2 separate regions of the Homo sapiens genome follow, and region 1 is linked to region 2. The links come from fine-mapping of genetic effects on plasma protein levels. Region 2 holds a variant in brackets. A gene starts in the other region. All regions are shown on their forward strands.

Region 1 (10,733 bases), not on the chromosome of region 2:
TTAGCAAAGGCATGGGGGAGTGACACCATGGCACAAGGAGAGGGGAGAGAGAAGCTGGCTTTTGCACCCGCAGCTCAGGGCCCCAGACGCATCGCAGAGCCACGGGTGCCCACGAGCAGGGTCAGCTCTCGGGGGCCCTCTTCCGCAGCCCAGACCCGGGACAGGAAGTGAGGGAGCAGGGACAGATCCCGGGGAGGCGCGCGCTCGGTACCCGGAAGGCGGCGGCTTCACGCTCGCGGCTCCGCGGCCAGGTCGGGGTGAAGGGGGCGCGGGAGTCCGCATCGCCGCCGCCCCGGCACAGCAGCCACAGCAGCCACGGCAGCCACGGCAGCGCCCGCACGTCCATTGCGGCGCCCGGCTCCTCTGCCGCCCGCGCGGCCTGTTTTCTCTTTCGGTTCCTCGGCTCCTCCCAGCCTGGGCTCGAGGGGCGGAAGGAGCTGGGTTGAGTGCACGATGCTGAGATTGACCCTTTTTTAGGTCCCCGGTGTTCTGTGACTGAAAATCCGGTCAGCTGGAGGCTACGGACCTCCTTGCTGAGGCTAGTTTTTTTGTTTTTGTTTTTGTTTTGGAAGAGTCAGGCACTTGACCATGTGCTTTCGAGGTTTCACTTCCATCCATTAGAAAAAAAGAAGCCTGAGAGTCATTCTTTTGTGTGTGTTGAGATCAGGTCTCACTGCAGCCTCGACCTTCAGGTTCAAGTGCCTCCTGCCTCAGCCTCCGGAGTACCTGGGACTACAGGCGCGTGCCACCACCCCAGGCTATTTTTGTATTTTTAGTAGAGATAGGATCTTGCCATATTGCCCAGGCCGGTCTCGAACTCCTGGACTCTAGTGATCCACCCGCCTTGGCCTCCCAAAATGCTCACAGGTGTGAGCCACCTGGCCTGCCCTGTGAGCCACCGGAAGCTGCCTTTTTCCTTCTTGCCACAATCCCTAAGTTCAAGACCTAGTTCTGAAGTGATGTGGGCCAATACATAGAGTCATCCATTCAGCAGATGTTTATAAATACGTAACAAAATTGTACAGATGTGAAAAGCATACACAGTTTTTGGATCTATTATGGCAGTTTCAAAACTCTTGAAGCCTGTTTCTCCGTTTGCAAAGGAAGATAGAGCCAAGTACATAATTTGCAGGGTTCCGTGTAAACTGAAAATGAAGTTCCCTTGTTCATAAATTGTGAAGAATTTCAAGACGGCAACAGCAGAGCATTAACCCAAGCCATGGGCCTTCTAAGCACCCACTTCTGCACAGGTCACACACTCATGAACCTGGCTCTACCGAGCCTTTCTATTATCATCTATTCTGAACAAGGCTTCCATGTCTGTGAAATTCATATCATTACCCTTGTAGATTTTTAGAACTAACATCAGATTTATGTCTTTAGTTTTTACCTAGGTGCAGTGAGTTACAATATTCTCCAATGCAAACTTCGTAATAAAAATAAAAATAATGTTCCGAGTATTAAGAGGAAAGACACAAGAGTTTTTTATGTACGTTCATGATAAGATATATTGCTCTTGGCAAGTGTGGTGATAAAGATTTTATTTAAATCATAAGTTCACAGAACGATGTTCATGTTTACCTCAGCAGTTCTTTTGTACTTAGCCCTTTTTTGTGACTCATACAAGCACATACTTTTCTTTTTAAACTGAACTTTGCTTTCAGATCATAGTCCCTGTTTATTGACAACCTACGGAGTCAGGAAATTTAAATATAGGCAGTCATCTTTACTTTAGGATAATTGGTATTGTAAAAAAGCCCCTTGAACTAAACTCATTTCAGGAGCTCACATCAAGTATTTATTGAGTACCTGCTAAGTGTCAGGCATTCTTCTAGGTAATGAGGATATATCAAGTAAGTGGATAAGTGACTAAAGGGATGAAAATCCCCATCCCTATGGGACTGATATTTCAATTGATTTACATCAACAAATATTTTATTGAGTACTTCCTAAGTGTCAGGCATTGTTCTAGGTCATCAGGACACATCATGGATGGAAGTGCATAAGTGACTGAAGAGATGAAAAGCCCCACCCTGTTGAAGCTGGTATTTCAGTGAGGGGGAGAGACGCAATAAAATTACTACAGGTTGAGGATCCCTTATCCACAATGCCTGGGTCTGGAAGTGTTTCAGATTTCAGATTTTTTCCCCCCAGATTTTGGAATATTTGCATATACATAATGAGATCTCTTGGGGATGAGACCCAAGTCTAAACACAAAATTCATTTGTGTTTCACTTATGCTACTGACTGAAGGTAATCTTACTGACTATTTTAGGTAATTTTATGCATAAAACAAGGCTTTGAATGCATTTTGACTATGACCCACCACATGAAGTCAGGTGTGAAATTTTCTAGGTGTGGCATGATGTCAGTACTCAATAAGTTTTAGATTTTGGAGTATTTTGGGTGTTTGGATTAGAGATGCTCAACTTGTACATGTGTTAAAGGACAATAAATCCAGATAAGGAGCATCATCAGTGTGAGGGGTGGTACTGCTATTTTAAATAAGCTGTTCAATACTGTCCTCACTGATGAGGAGAGTTTTGAGCAAAGATTTGAAGGAGAAGAAAGTGAGCCACATGGATATTCAGATATCCAGGGAAAGAGAAGCTAAGACAGAAAGAACTGTCAACACAAAGGCCTTGAGATGGAAGTTTGCTTGGCACGTTCCAGAAACATAAAAGACGTCAGCATGGATGGAGTAAAGGAAAAAAAAAAGGATGGGGGAGAGTAGAATATGAGATAAGTAAGAAGCGCACAGATTGTGAAGAATTTTGGGTCAGTTAAAAGGGAGATCAGAATCATCTATTAAGTAGTAAAACAAAGTTTTTGAAAAGTGGCTTGAAAAGTGAAGGTGGCAAGTATCTGCTAATTCTTAGAATAAACACTACAAATTACATGTATATGTAGAGATGTGTTTTTTTCATCAAATTTGCAAAATAGCACATGGAACTTCCCTCAACTCTGTATTAGATATCTATTGCCATGTAAAATATAACCCTCAAACTTAGCATCTTAAAAATACGAATTTTTCTTATCTTAAACAGTTTCTGTGGACCAGGAGGGAGCAGCTTATCTGGGTGGTTCCAGCTCAGAGTGTCTCATGAGGACGCAGACAAGCTGTTGCATATGGCTGCAATCTTCTGAAGGTTTCCCAAGTTTAAAGGATTCAATTTCAAGCTCATGTGGCTGTTAGCAAGAGTCCTCAGCTCCTCTTAGGCCTTTGGACAAAATCCTCAGAACCTTATCAGAAGGCTGGGCTTTTCCTGCCAGCTCTTTGTTCCTGCAGAATGAGTGAATAGAGAAATTGAGACAGTGGACCAGGGAATGACTGAGGTGGGAGCAGCAGTGTCTTTTTATAACCTTATCTTGAAACATATCATCTCTTCTGCCATTGGTTACACAGAGCCAGTCTGGTAAGATGTGGGAGGTGGAGCTGACATAAGGTGGGGTCATCAGGTGCCATCTTGGAGGCCCGCTACCACAGCCTCATGTTGAATGTTATAAGCCCAGTAACAAATGCAGTCATTTCTTTATGTGTGAAAATACTCCAGAGCTAACCATTTTCACAAATACCTCTTAACCTTTATGATACACAAATCAATATTTACTGTTGTTTTTATCCCGTTATGCACCTTCTGGGTTTTCTTCCATTTTTAATCATGCTACTTCATGTTTCAGTGACTTTGCTACGGAATTATTTTGTTTCTTTGTTTTTTTTTTTTTTACCTTTTTTTTGTTTGTTTGTTTGTTTGTTTTGTTTTGTTTTGAGATGGAGTATCTCTCTTGCTCAGGCTGGAGTGCAGTGGTATGATCTCGGCTCACTGCAACCTCTGCCTCCCGGGTTCAAGTGATTCTTCTGCCTCAGCCTCTCAAGTAGCTGGGACTACAGGTGCACACCACCATGCCCAGCTAATTTTTGTATTTTTAGTAGAGATGAGGTTTCATCATGTTGGCCAGGATGGTCTCAATCTCTTGACCTCGTGATCCACCCGCCTCAGCCTCCCAAAGTGCTGGGGTTACAGGTGTGAGCCACTGTGCCCAGCTGGAGATTTCTTAAAAAGCTGAAAGTAAACTACCATTTGATCCAGCAGTCTCACTACTGAGTACCTACCCAAAGGAAAATAAGTCATAATATGAAAAACACACATGCACACACATGTTTATAGCAGCACAATTTGCAATTGCAAAGATATGGAACCAACCTAAATGCCCATCAACCAATGAGTGGATAAAGAAAATGTGGTATATATACACTGTGGAATACTAGTCAGCCATAAAAAGGAACGAAATAATGTCTTTTGTAGCAACTTGGATGGACTGGAGGCCATTATTCTAAGTGAGGTAACTCAGGATTGGAAAACCAAATATTGTATGTTCTCACTTATAAGTGGGAGCTAAGCTATGAGGATGCAAAGCGGAAGAATGATACAGTGGACTTTGGGGACTCGGCGGGAAGGGTGGGAGGGGGGTGAGGGATAAAATACTACACATTGGGTACAGTGTACATTGTTTAGGTGACAGGTGCACCAAAATCTTAGAACTTATCCATGTAACCTGTACTCCAAACACCATTGAAATTAAAATTAAAATTTTAAAAAGTTGAAGCAACAAATAATGTAACAAAATGCCTATTCAAAATGACAAAGTAAACAATAATGGCTTCTTTCTTCTATCAAGTACATTTGAGGTGATGACGGTCCTGAACCATCTCAGGGAACTAAATATTTAATAGATCACTCTCTTAACCCAATAGTTATTGGAAATTTCCAAAGGAAACTTATCAGTATAGATAATTGATAGAAAAACACACAAACAATTCCACAGAGGACAGGGAAGACTGCATCGTTAAGAGAGTAGAATTACATGCCTCACAGGCTATCGGGGTGAGGTACCTGACAGAGAATGTGTGTCTAGCCTTGCACAAGCCAAGCAAAGTGTGGATCTGCAGGGAGAAGTGGCTGGCCCTCAATGAGCTGAGTGCTGGGCATTAGTCAACTGCTGATTCAGCCACAGATGCTAATCAGAACATCCAGAGAAGAAACCGGGCTGTATACTCCCCAAGAAATATCAGATGTAGAGCCAGGATTGGCATGGACCTCAAGGACACAGGACAGACCTGAGGGTCTATTCCCTGTGCCCCCTCACAATTCCATACATGTCCTTGCACTCACACATCAAACACTGTCTAGAGAGGAACATGGTGGAGAGCTGGAGAGCAGAAATAACAGACTGAAGTCTTTCTACTGCCTTGTGTGGGAGCTGTGAAGACGACGTTAGTTACAAAGTTGTAGTTGGAGTAAGTTTGTGACCACATCACAGAGGAAAAAGCAGAATCTGCGTACACCTAATGTTTGTGCTTCTTGCCATTTATTCAATTCTATTGTTTCTCAGGCTTTTGTTTCCCATTTGCAACTCAGCACTGATGAAAATTTTTCCCTTTACCCTAAAACTGTTAGCCTGAATTCACGCCTGAAAACTGGCAAGAGGACCTACCCTACATTGTAAAGACAACCATGAACCATTCCAACCAGACACCTGCAGAGTCAGCCCCATGAAAAGAGGAACCCCTCCAAGACTATACTAGGGGGTGCCCCAGGAGGGGAAGAAAAATTGGCCAGTCGTCTGGGAATTACAGTGTTAGTGGAGAGTATTGAGTCCCTCATCCTCATCTAAGGAAGAGGCACTCCCTTCTCAATGCTCAGGTTTACTGGCAGCAGGGAAGATTCATGAGAAGGGAATGAAAGATGGTGGGATTATCTGCAAAAAACGGAAAAAAGGGAAGCCTGGTATTCTGATTTGCATTTAGATGCCTGGTTAGGCCACACTGCTGCTTTTCTCCTTATGCCCTCCTGAACAGGGGAAAAGGCGAGATGGAGAGAGGGGAGAGGAATAAGGCAGGGGGCACCCACAACTCTGGCATGGAAAGGAAGTGTGTTTCTCATGAGTCAAGTGGAACCCTCCAGAGGGAGTTTCCACTGCATGAGGGGAAGCCAGTAGCAGTGGGCTCAGGGTGGACTATGAGGGTCTAGGGCTGGAGACTGGACTAGACCCAGGTTTCTCATCTCAGAGAACTGTGCCCCAGGAGCCCAAGGAGGGCGTCCCATGGACCACACACATGTGCTCAAGGACAGGGTCAGCACGGGGGTCTGCCTGGAAGAAGGCTGGACGGCCAGTCAGTGAGAGCTGGAGGGGCAACAATGACCCGGCCTGGGAGCCCTGCAGCTGAGTCCTGTTAAACAGTGATATCTTCCTGCTCCCCACAATCCAGCCTCCTGCTCACTATTATCCAGGGCTCAAAGCTGTCAAGGGCATGGAGGAGATAGGGAAAAAGCAAAACATGTCCCTTTTCTTCGCTCACTTCACAAGCATAGCCAGAGATGGCAGAAGGGAAAGCTTTGAATTAGATATGAGACTGGAATTTTAATATGCACAAGACTGAATTCTAATTTGTTAATTCTAAACAGAAAGATATTCAGAAAGTTCTAATATCTGCCCAAGATGACATTCAAGGATGGGAAAGGGAATTCAAGTGATATGGGCTGAGAGTAGTGACTGAAAAAATAGAAAGCCATTTCATTTTTATAGCCTCAAAAAACTGCTTTCACAATGAATGTGGAATTATGAAGTTAGATCAGAATAATGGAGACGATTTTGTAAGGAAAGCAGAAAGAATGCTGACACTTATTGTACAGACATTAATAGGTAAGTAATTTGCAAGGGGTCTATGTCTATTACCTCATTTAATTCCTACAGTGAACAGTGTATTACTCTCCTCAATTTAACTGAAGCCGAGAGAAATTAAAACTTGCTCAGGGACACAAAGCTAATGAATGATAAATCTGATATTAAATATAGGTAAATACAGTGTCAAAGGCAGTACTTATTCCACTTGTACTCTACTGCCACCAACTGTGGTGGACTGTGAGACATTTTTCATACTAAAACTTCCATTGTGTCTGCTTTAATTATGTCTAATCTAGTATGAAAAGACACTTTATGGTAATAGTATACTTTAGTTGAACCTGTCAATGGTATATGATGATTCTTTGTCAGTTCAAATACTAATTCCCTATTTTAAAACAAAAAGGTACAGTTTTGCCTTTACTGTGAGTTTCCTTTGTTTGGGTGGTGTACTTTGGTGCCATGGAGATGATATTCGCAGACAGATGTTAATGCGTCATTATAAACACTGCCTGTTCTTGCTCTCTCATGAAAATGAAGAGTTCTGTTAGTATTTCATGGAACATCGCCACCTGGATTTGACTCAAACCTTCTCTTTTGACACGTTTTCACTCTGAATGACTAGTTTCCTTTTTGTTTGCTTCTGGTTCAGATTTCGGAGGTCATATTTCAATGTCCATTGTGAAAAGTGAATGGTGGGAGAAGGAGGAGGCAGAATGTAGGTTGGGCAGAGAAGATGGCCTTTTAAAAATGTTTTTATGCTGGAGACTTTTAATAGAACAATTCTGACAGCAAGCATTGAGTGAGTGGTTTATTCAGATATTCCCATCTGAAGAATTCCATGATCCTAAAAACACAGATCAATTTTTCTGATATTTATCTACTCCCTTAGCTTCCCCAAATTTGATAATTGCCCAATTTTGAGAGTGAATATTTGACTCTGTGCTCAATATCTGATTAAGTCTTACTAGTGCATTTGTGTTGAACCTAAGTCTCAAATGCCTCTTCTACATTCCGTATTTTATTACCCTTCTGTTTGGAACCAATCAAGGACATTTTCTCTTACACTACAGATATTCAGTAGTTTTATATCTTAAGAACTCATATGCTCTTAGTCATAACATTTATATTCATTTGGACCTTTTTTTTTTATTTGACCTGGGATTCATTCCAAGCAGTAAATAGCTGGTCTTATAGCCGTAGTCTCTCATCAACACCCAGAAAGGCATCTCTGAGTTGAAGAGGAAAAAAATGAATAAAACAAAAGAGGGGGTCAATATAGACTTTATTAATAATGTATTAGAAATCAAGAGGTTGAATTAACTCACATCTGTACTTCAGACCAATTAAAGGGGGGAAAGAAATGTAAATAAAGTCTGTAATTATACCCGGAAGTTTTAAGGTAAAACTTTAGAAGGCATACTTCTAACATTCCATACAAGTCTTACATTTTGATTCTGTGTTCACAGTTAGACTCTAACTGGAGGCCTGATGAATGGATTTATGGAGGCAGGAGACCAGCTTAAAATATATATATATAATATATACACACACACATAATATATATTTAATATATAATATTAAATATAATATATACAATATATTGAATATAATAATATATAATACAATGTATATTATATAAAGAAATATAAATAAATATATATATATTTATGAGACAGGGTTTCACTCTTTCACCCAGATGGGATTGCAGTGGCACGATCTCGGCTCACTGCAACCTCCACCTCCCAGGCTCAAACGATCCTCCTGCCTCATCCTTCTGAGTGGCTGGGATTACAGGTATGTGCCACTACCACAGGGCTAATTTTTTTTTGTATTTTTAATAGAGATGAGGTTTCACTATGTTGGCCAGGCTGATCTCAAACTCCTGACCTCAAATGATTCACCTGCCTCGGCCTCTTGAACGACCAGTATTACAGGCTTAAGCCACCGAACCTGGCTGAGATCAGCTTAATCTTATCTGTCCTTGTTGTTTTTGTGGCTGTCCTTCTTATTATAAGCATCGGTACTTCTATCTTTCTTTTCCATTCTATCTTTACGATGGTATAGGAACAAATGCTTTATAAAACCCAATGAACAAGAAAATCATCCAAATAATGACGCAGACTCTGCTTTATTGACAAAGAAGGTGACGTTCCGAAAGGAAGTCATTGGTCAGAAGACCATGCAAAATGAGTTTGCTCAAAATATTGAATGCCACGTATTGTATGAATGTCTGAATTTGACAGATGGGAGGTGACTTAGAGTTGTCAATACATAATATATACAAGTATAGTTTGTATGAAAGTTGAACTTCAGAAAATTTTAGTCTAAATTTTACATTTGCATTTTACCACATTAAGTCTAGATTTGGTGGTATGTGTAGAGGAAAAAAAGTTACAAATATCCCACCTAGATTATCTTGAATGCCTCTGCTGTCAACTTTAAGGGCGACTTGTGGTGCTATTCCTGACCTAATATCTGCAGAAGGCTGCAGGCTATGGCCATCGTGGGCTGGTGTGTATTAAAAGAAGCTGGAGATCGTGAATTGGTTAATGCATAGTTGGTTGGATGAAACTGCTTAAAAGCAGCTATTTAAATTCACATCACCAGTCAAGTGACAATGTGAAAGGGGTGATTGTATTATCTTTAGCACTTGTTTACTCTTTTTGAGGTGAAAGGACAGGAGCAAACGCCTGGATTCACTTTTGAAAACGATGGTAGCTATCAAGTTCTCTGAGTATTCCTATAAGCCCTCCCTTCCAAGCAGTATGTCCTTCCTACTGAGTGGTTATTTGAAAAGCTCAGTGAGGAAAAGCTCTTTGAACTGTATTTTTTCTTTTCAGCTGAATGAGAACATCTGAAAGTCCATCTCCCATTTTCTTTCATTGACACTAACTCACTTTGACAGTCTGTACCCAATAGAACTATATATCACAATGTGAACTAGAGTTGGCCAGACATTTCAATGCTTACCAGCCCTGAACTCACAAGGCCATTTTTAGCTTCTAGTTTGTTTGTAGACTGCTGTTCAAGGTAAGCTCCTATGTAAAGTGACTGCCTTTGTTCTTCATGAAATTCAGTTTTATTTCTTAGGCAATATAATTTTTTGTTTTTTATTACATTGCAAAACACTTTAGGACTCCAAGAAAGTAATTTTGCCTTATTTTCCATTCACTATTTGTCCATTTGTAAGTTTATGACAAAACCAGATGTCCATCACAGCAATGAGAATCAGATACTTGATGAATACATATAAATTATGCACATAAAACTAGGTGCAGTTTTGTCCATGAAGTACATGTTCACTTGAGGCTTCAAAGAGTTCTGCTTTATATTCATTTAAATGAATGGTATAATTTTTGCATGATTTTTCTTGATACTTTTGAAATTGTTCCAAACTTGAATCCATTACTATTAGATACTGTTTATACCATGATAATATAAAAGTTAGAATTTTGATTATATATGTGTTACTTCATCTATTGCTAGAGGAAATAATTTCATGGCTTCATAACTTGGTGGAAGAAATTACATTTGAAACATGCAGCTTCTATTCCTGTTTTGTCCTGTTCCTAATTACATTATGACACTCTATGTGTTCCCAATTTGAACAAATAGCTGTAACCTGATGAAGCCATCTCTGTCTCTATTTTTCAGTGCCTAACATTTGGGTATTTATTGAATGCTTTGACTGACTAAAGCATGGGGACTTTGTTATAACATGAGCTTTTAGTCTAAGCAATTGTTTCTAAGCAAAGCCCTTAAATGTATTCTTTAAAATACTTCATTTTATCTTAATGGACGAGACACTGTTTGAGGATAAATAATTCTTGCTTTTGAGCATTTTATCTTCTAGTGAGGAATAAGCATGTATACACTCCAACATAATCTGTGCAGCACTGTGTTATCAAGAGGTAAGAGAGTGTGGGAGGGCGCAGGGGAGGGAGAGATTGTCATAAGACTCTTCTAATTGAAGAGAGTGTAACATATCCAAAAGATAGTTAAGAACTTGACACACAGAAATGAGGTTGAGGAAGGAAGTGGGTGG
Region 2 (8,000 bases):
TTGCTGTAGACTCAGAGAAACATTTCTCTAGCTAGTGACCATGTATCTTGTTATGTGAATTTCACTTATGTGTCACCAACTGGGTTTCTGTCTTTTAAGGAAACCAAATTACAGATTCACACGTGCCTACTTTTATTATTACTGATCCCATCCTGCCTTTATCTTGCTTTATTAATTGCAGGCCAGTAGTAAAATGTTTAATAGTTACATGACCATTAGCATAACCCCAAGATTCACAGGGACTGAGGAAACTAAGATATATTTTAAAAGAGTTTGGATATATGGCAATAAATGAGGAAGGGACAGAGTGATACTTCATGGAGATGTTTTGTGTTGAAGGGAAGGAACCCAGTTTTCTAAGATTTATTTTCTTTAAGAGATTGAGCATACCATATATTTTGATCATAGAATTTTACATACTTTAGATGCTAGCTGTTTTTAAAAGGAAAGAACTCCAAATTACATCTTGCAAGCTATTGTGGTTTTGCAAGCATTGAGTGATGGCATATATGAAAACTCTGAGAGGTGTCATATTAAGATACCAATGTCAGTTTAAAGATATTCTATATCTGTATCCCTATGACATTGTATTTTGAATTTTTTATTTTTCATTTTTGGACAGACATTTAGAACTCACTCAGTGGAGATGGCTCTGCATCTCTGTTTTAAGCTTTTTGAACTCTAGGCAGCTGTGTCGGCCTGGGGCTACATTGACTTCTTCATTGCAGCCCCTCGATTGGTTTCGTCTGGACCAGGGTGGGTTTCGATTGCGGCCCTTGCTGGAACAGTAGCAGGAAAGTAGAAACACCTTCCTGTCTCTGGGTTAACCAGCTGACAGTCTGTTACTTGTGTGCTTCCTTCTAATTGGTAATCTGCCAACACCTTTCAGGATATTATGAAATTTCAAGCAAATGAGGTTAAAATGGAACCTCTGTACTTCTGAACAGGCGTGGACTGACTGCAGTTCTCCAGGATAGTTTCAGCAGAAGCAGTGAGATTACAGTCAGGAGCAAAACAGTATCTGAGCTTTCTTTATGGGAAAGATTCCGACTGTGTGCTTGGTTTATATGGTTAAATTAATTGCCCTTGTTAAATTAAAAAAATAGGGTATGTTTCTGCCACAGACTTTGCTTTAAAAGCAGAGATCTTCTAAAGTCATTTGCCTTGTATTTGACTTCTGCTGCTCCCCGTTTCCTGCTGGGCCTGATGGTTTGATTGTAGAATGTTTCTGAGTTGTGTCACTGTTGGACTCTGCTGAGCTGAGTAGTCTCATTAAAGGAGAGTGTGCATCTGAGTTGAGGAAGACAATATAGATGTGGACCTTGTTTGTAGAGTTCACAAGCTGCTTACATAGAAATAGCAAGGACAGTGCAGCCAGTGGGAAGGAGCCGGCTGAGGGACTTGATATTATTTCCATGGAAACCAGTTGGGTATGGGAAGAGAGGTTGTGGAAGGCAATGCTCTGGTGTTTGGCAATTCACACTGTGCAGAAGAGAAAGCAGAACTGGACTGGGAGTATAGAGTAGCAGAAGTTTAAGCTTGGGGAAGAAGTTGAGCAAGGAAAAGCATATGATCTGTTGATCAGCATGATGTGATGTGGTCTGAATCTTCAGACAGTTCACAGCTTTTTCATAGAGGCTGTCCTCAGATGGGTTCAACCATTCTGAGAATTCTGCCTTTACGATATAAGTAGTATCCATGACATTAAAAACGAGAAGAGAAGCGTTTTGGCCAATGACGGACTGCATAAACTACAGTCTGCATAAATGACCTTGGTCCTAGAAGATTAGGATGAAGCTGAACAATTCTTATCACCTAGTGATGCTGTAGCCATTGTAATGTCGTAGCACAATGCATTAGTCACATGTTTGTGGTAATACTGCTGTAAACGAACCCACTGCGCTACCAGTCTTATGAAAGCGTCCAGTCAGGTCCTAGGCCTTTAGGTCCACTCACTCACTGACTCACCCAGAGCCGCTTCCAGTCCTGCAGGCTCCATTCATTATAAGTGCCCTAGGCAAGTGTGCCATTTTAATCCTTTATACCATATCTTTGCTGCACCTTTTCTACGTTTAGATATGTGTCACATGTTACAGTTGCCTGGGGTATTCAGTGCAGCGTCATGCTGTGTGGGTTTGTAGCCTGGGAACAATAGGACATACCATATAGCCTAGGTTTGTAGTAGGCGACACCATCTATGTGTGTGCAGATACACTCGATGATGTTTGAGCAGTGACAGAATTGCCTCATGACACATTTCTGATGACGTATCGCCATTAAGTGAGTGACTATAAACCAGTCCCCCCATCAGCAGTTACACTTCCTGAGGTTTCAGTTACCCATGGTCACTTGCAGTCTGAAAATATGAAGATATTTTGAGAGAGAGATGCCACATTCACATACCTTTTATTACAGTTATAATTGTGCTATTTTATTATTAGTTGTTAATCTTTTACAACTAATTTATAAATTAAACTTAATCATGGGTATGTATGTAAAGGAAAAACCATATCCGAAACCGTATTCCTGGTTCCAGGCCTCTACTGGGGGTCTTGTATCTGTGATTACAAGGTGCTGCGAAGGGATAACTGTAATTTTTCTATATGACTAGCATTTTATTGAATCAAGTTGTGTAGATGGTTGGCAATATAATAGGAACTCAGAGATCTTTATGCCATACAGAGTCTGTCCTTTTAATGGCATTTATTGTGACAAGATTTAAACTAAAGTTTTGTGGAATGTTTTGCCAGTTTTTGTGTTGTAACTGAAACTAAATGTTTTCTGAAAAGTTAAAACCATTTCTTTAAATGGAAAATAAATGAAGCCGTTTACCTAATTGGTTAAGGACTCACCCGTGGGCCTCACACCGCCTAGGTTAATTCTTCACTTTATAATTCCGTGATGTTGGGCAAGTTCCTCATTCTGAGCCTTGGGATATTTGGCTTCAAAGCTGAGGAACTTGGGAGGGTTGGATAATGGCATCACGTTCTGTGGGGAGATTTGGCTCACATGTTAGCTGTGTGGGTGAGAGCCGTGCTGTCATGCGTTCTTAGCCACTGGCCAGTTTCCTTCTCAAGCCATCAGTAGAGATGCTGATCCTGCATCTGCCAGTCATTGCTCCAGGAGGGAAGACATTACTGTCCCAGAGTGACGGTGTCATTGGGGATAACAGACACTTCAGAAAATGCCACCACTGAGCTGTATGAAGTGCCATGGCAGCTAGTGCTGGAGCTGTGGATTCAGCCGGGGAGCACTGTCTGGAGGAGCTGCTGCAGCACATGTGTGTCTCTCCAGCTGTCAGGCTGGCCTTTGGAGTGCATTTGGATTTTTTGAGAATGAGAGAGGGACCATTGGCTAACTGTTTTACGCTCTGAAAAATGACATAGAATAGCAAAGATTTTACTTATTTTTGCTGATTTTCTAGAACATTTTCTGTCCCAGAGTGATGGTTTTGAAGAACCAGCGTTCTTGGAAAGATGGTTTTGCATCCAGAAGAGTGATTTTAACTAAAATCAGGCTGCCTCCCTTGAGGATGGTCACTGAATTTTGTACAACTGGGACAACGGACAGGGATCCTGGGTTGTTTCCAGTGGACAAGCCGCTTCTGTGGGGGCCTTTGCAGTTCTCCCCGCTCCTCTCCTGTGTCCCGCTGGTTTCCTTCAGTTGAGATGGAATACAGCATAGAGTCAGTGACTTTTAGAAGACTTGACAGAGTTTCAGGAAAATGCTCACTGGGCTTTCTTACCTATCCTGCTGCAGAACTTTTTTTTTTTTTTTTTGAGATGGAGTCTCACTCTGTCACCCAGTCTGGAGTGCAGTGGTGCGATCTCGGCTCACTGCAACCTCCACCTCCTGGATTCAAGCTATTCTCGTGCCTCAGCCTCCCGAGTAGTTGGGACTATAAGCGTGCGCGACCATGCCTGGCTAATTTTTGTGTGTGTGTGTGTGTGTGTGTGTGTGTTTTTTTTTTTTTTTTAAGTAGATTCAGGGTTTCACCATGTTGGCCAGGCTGGTCTCGAACTCCTGACCTCAAGTGATCCTCCCACCTTGGCCTCCCAAAGTGCTGTGATTACAGGCATGTGCCACTGCGCATGGCCTGAAGTTCTTTCTTTCAGAAAATGTATTCAACACATTCTTTTGTGTGTGTTTGAGTGAAGACGGTGTTTCCACACAGCTTGCAGATACTTTCTTCCAGAAGCTTGTTTGTTGCTAACATTTAACATCTTACTGTTACAGCTTAGTTTTCTCTTTGATTGAATATATTGATCT[CT/C]TTTTTTTTTTTTCTGTTGGCTTTTTTCTTAAGTCTTTACTTGTGTAAGCTCAGATAACTTAGTCTAGAATGTAGGCTTTTTCTGGGAATCTCAGCTGAATGGTTTCATTTGCTTGGCTGTTAAATGAACCATACTGTTTGGAATAGTTTCCTAATTCTGGCTGTACATGTTCACTTCAGGTAGAGAATTTTCTAACAGACAAACTTTCAGACAAAAAATTTATTATTCCTCAAAGATATCATTACATTTTATTTAGTCTGTAATAATTTTATTGCTTCTGAAACCATTTTCTAGTTCTATAATGTGATCATGGTGCTTTTAAACTTTAATATCAAGTTAATTTTAAGAATGATTTTAGCTTAGGCCATTCTAGGGGCTTGGCCTTTAATCTGAAAAGAAATTTAGAATCCTTTAGTTTCAAACATGTGATTTCTTAAAACTTGTTGTCAGTTATTTATACGATTTTCAAGTTTATTATGAAATAGTCTTTAAAAAATATTTACTTTAGTGGAAACATATCTAGTGATAGTTTAACCAGGGTGCATACCAGAGTACATAATAGTTTTTGGAATATTCTTCATAAATTTTCAGAGAGATTATTTAAACCACATGACTGTTTCTGAGCTCCTGTTGATACTAGGGGCTAGGCATATTCGTTTTTTCTTTTTGAGACAGAGTCTCGCTGTGTTGCCCAGGCTGGAGTGCAGTGGCACAATCTCAGCTCACTGCAACCTCTACCTCCCAGGTTCAAGCGATACTCCTGCCTCAGCCTCCCTAGTAGCTGGGACTATAGGCGTGCACCACCACGCCCGGCTAATTTTTGTATTTTTAGTAGAGACGGAGTTTCACCATACTGGTCAGGCTGATCTTGATCTCCTGACCTCGTGATCTGCATGCCTCAGCCTCCCAAAGTGCTGGGATTACAGGCATGAGGCACCACGCCCTGCCATTAGTTTGTTTTAAAGGAGACATAATGTCCGTTGAAACATCAGAATGTTTTAAGTACTGACAGCTTGCAGGTGTCTTTGGAGTGAAGTTTAGAAACCTGCTGTGACCATTCTTCATTTTAAAGCTGTGACTAAGAACTCTGAGATATTGGTGCCTTCGCCTCAAGTGCTGCTGATGGGTTTGAATGGCATTGAGGTTGCCAGGCCTGGAGGAGGGCTGCCTTGTGCTGAGTGGTTAAATCACCCCCCTGAAAAAAGTCAGTGTTTCAAGTATTTTAATAGGCTCCTCCTTTCCTACTCCCATAACCACTTACATTTGATAAATCTTGACAAAACAAGTATGAAATCCAAGTAGAGAAAATAATATAATTGAATAGAGCAACACTTTTCTTTCTAGCAACCCTGATTTCCAGATTATCAGGACAATATCCCTCATTTTATTCTTTTTTAAATCTTGATTCTGCTCCCCAAGCAAACACACTCTTTACCTTATTTAGATATCCCCTTTGCAAGAATGGTGGATTTCTTTTAAGAAAAGCATAGCAGGCCGGGCGCGGTGGCTCACGCCTGTAATCCCAGCACTTTGGGAAGCTGAGGCAGGCGGATCACGAGATCAGGAGATTAAGACCATCCTGGCTAACATGGTGAAACCCTATCTCTACTAAAAATACAAAACATTAGCTGGGTGTGGTGGTGGGTGCCTGTAGTGCCAGCTACGGGAGGCTGAGGCAGGAGAATGGCGTGAACCCGGGAGGTGGAGCTTGCAATGAGCGGAGATTGCGCCACTGCACTCCAGCCTGGGCGACAGAGTGAGACTCCGTCTCAAAAAAAAAAAAAAAAAAAAAAAAGAAAAGCATAGCATTTTAGGTACGTGTGGATCTCTTTAGCGTTGATTCCTACCAGTTAACTCATTTTAAATGACACCCTCATGCACCAATATCATATACTTAGGATTGTGAAATAGTTTAATGATGCCACTGCCGCTACTTGAAGTTTGTCTCTGTTATCCTGGAGAAACTAGTCATGGCTCCTGAATAAGAGATTAGCATTTTTCCTGAGTAGTAGCCAAGTCTTTGTTTACTTGTTTATCTTGTATCCTGCAACCTGGAATATACACTCCGAGAGGGCAGGGCGTCTTTGTTTTGTTCATTGCTGTACTCTCCTGTGCCTCCCGCAGTAAGTACTTAAGAAATACTTGTGAAACACATGAATAAAGGTTAACGAAGGGCAAAGGAAACAAGCCTTTATTGATGATTTTTCTCTGTGCCCAGTAATACTTGGGTTATTTTCTCATGTCCTTGAGTCATCTTGACTCTAGGAGACACCTCTTAACATGTTCCTGCTGAAAAAGCTGAGCTGAGGAGTCATACCCCGAGGGTATCACCCTAAGATTGGGCACCTGAGTACCCCAGCCTGCTCTTCAGGTCTGTAGCTGCTTAGTGGCTATCAGACCTTCCAAGTCTCCATGCTTTTGAAGGCCTATGTGTGCGGTTTGGTTTCTTGGCAGGGGGGTTTGATGGGTTCCCAGACCTAGGAGTTCTTGGCGCCTCGTCTTCCAGTGACCCCACCAGGGCTGCTCTTTCTCCTCCATTGCTGAAACTAGTTCAGGGTTGGGGAGGAGGGCACGTGGGGGGGCCTGGTGGTTGGTTTTGTGCTGAGTCATTGCCTTGGTGCACTGTGGAAGGAAGCTCTGGGAGGTGGACGGCTCCTTCTGTGAGGGAGTGCTTCTGTCGTCAAGGGAGTACTGCATAGGGTGAATAACACAGTTATGTAGATATATATGGTGGTCTTACCCCCAGGGCCTCCACAACTCCTGGATGGGCCTAGCCTAAGCAATTCTGATTTAACTTATTGCCCCTCCTTTTAGCAATACTGTTGAGTTAAATAACAGTTTTTGCATTGAAAATAAAAAAATTTTATTTTTGTAGAGATGGGATCTTGGTATGTTGCCCAGGCTGGCCTGAAACTGCTGGCTTCAAGTGATCCTCTGGCCTTCGCCTCCCAAAGTGCTGGGATACAGGCACGAGCCACTGGCCAGGTCTTTATTTTTTGCATTTTGCAAGGACATTTTAAGTCACTTTCTTCCTTTTCTGTTTTTACTCCTGCTGAGGAGATGATCCCCATTTTACAAAATGGACAAAACATTCTCCCCAGGGAAGGGAAGAGTAGACATTTGAGAATAATTGTTTTCACAGAACCGGGAAACCACCTATTTTGTCCCAAGTATACTGATTGATGCATTAGCAATAACTCACTATCTGCTTTGCCAGAGGTTTGAACAATGAGTGTTAATGCTTGGTGTAGTGAATTTTGTGTGATTTCGAATCTGATAGCTGACTCATTGCACAGCTCTGTCTTGCGAGTTCAGATCTGAACTGTAGCTCTAAGAGGTAAAAGCAGAAGTGGAGCTGCCTTTCATGCCATAGCTAGTTTTTTAATAAAATAGAGTTAAAAAATCCTTTGGCTTTTCAGCATTTTGGTGTGATTGGAAAGGCTATTACTATCTTATATTCAGCATGAGTCTTGAGCAATTACTGATTAATATGATTTGGCTGTGTCTCCACCCAAATCTCAGCTTGTAGTTCCCATAATCCCCATGTGTTGTGGGAGGGACCTGGTGGGAGGCAATTGAATCATGGGGGCGGTTACCCTTATGCTGTTCTCGTGGTCATGAGTGAGTTCTCACGAGATCTGATGGTTTTATAAGGGGCTTTTTCCCCTTTTGCTCCGCACTTCTCCTTGCTGAAAAAGAATGTGTTTGCTTCCCCTTCTGTCACGATTG

Direction of the effects. Positions count from the first base shown, and alleles are read on the strand shown. Strength reflects both the effect of a copy and how common the allele is.
For the plasma level of the protein whose gene starts at base 365 in region 1, CT is the low allele of the variant in region 2 and C is the other (weak association).

The links. PIP is the chance, under the fine-mapping model, that this variant and not a neighbour inherited with it causes the effect. The UK Biobank Pharma Proteomics Project read protein levels with antibody pairs (Olink). The fine-mapping took linkage between variants from a reference panel, not from the people measured, so its PIPs are less certain.
Region 1: CTSO starts here. The variant in region 2 is fine-mapped to the plasma level of the CTSO protein (UK Biobank, PIP above 0.99).

Annotation. Positions count from the first base shown.
Region 1 is chr4:155,953,502-155,964,234 of GRCh38, forward strand. CTSO (cathepsin O) reads right to left here and starts at 365. Exons shown (of 8, transcript NM_001334.3): 1 at 212-365. The coding sequence starts at 346. RefSeq lists an enhancer at 1,476-1,770.
Region 2 is chr6:159,982,471-159,990,470 of GRCh38, forward strand. All of the region lies in intron 1 of IGF2R (insulin like growth factor 2 receptor), which reads left to right. Among named protein-coding and RNA genes, the nearest start is that of IGF2R, 17 kb to the left of the region's middle. RefSeq lists enhancers at 609-848, 5,026-5,600 and silencers at 727-1,021, 2,027-2,321. The variant CT/C (reference allele first, on the strand shown) is at 4,270.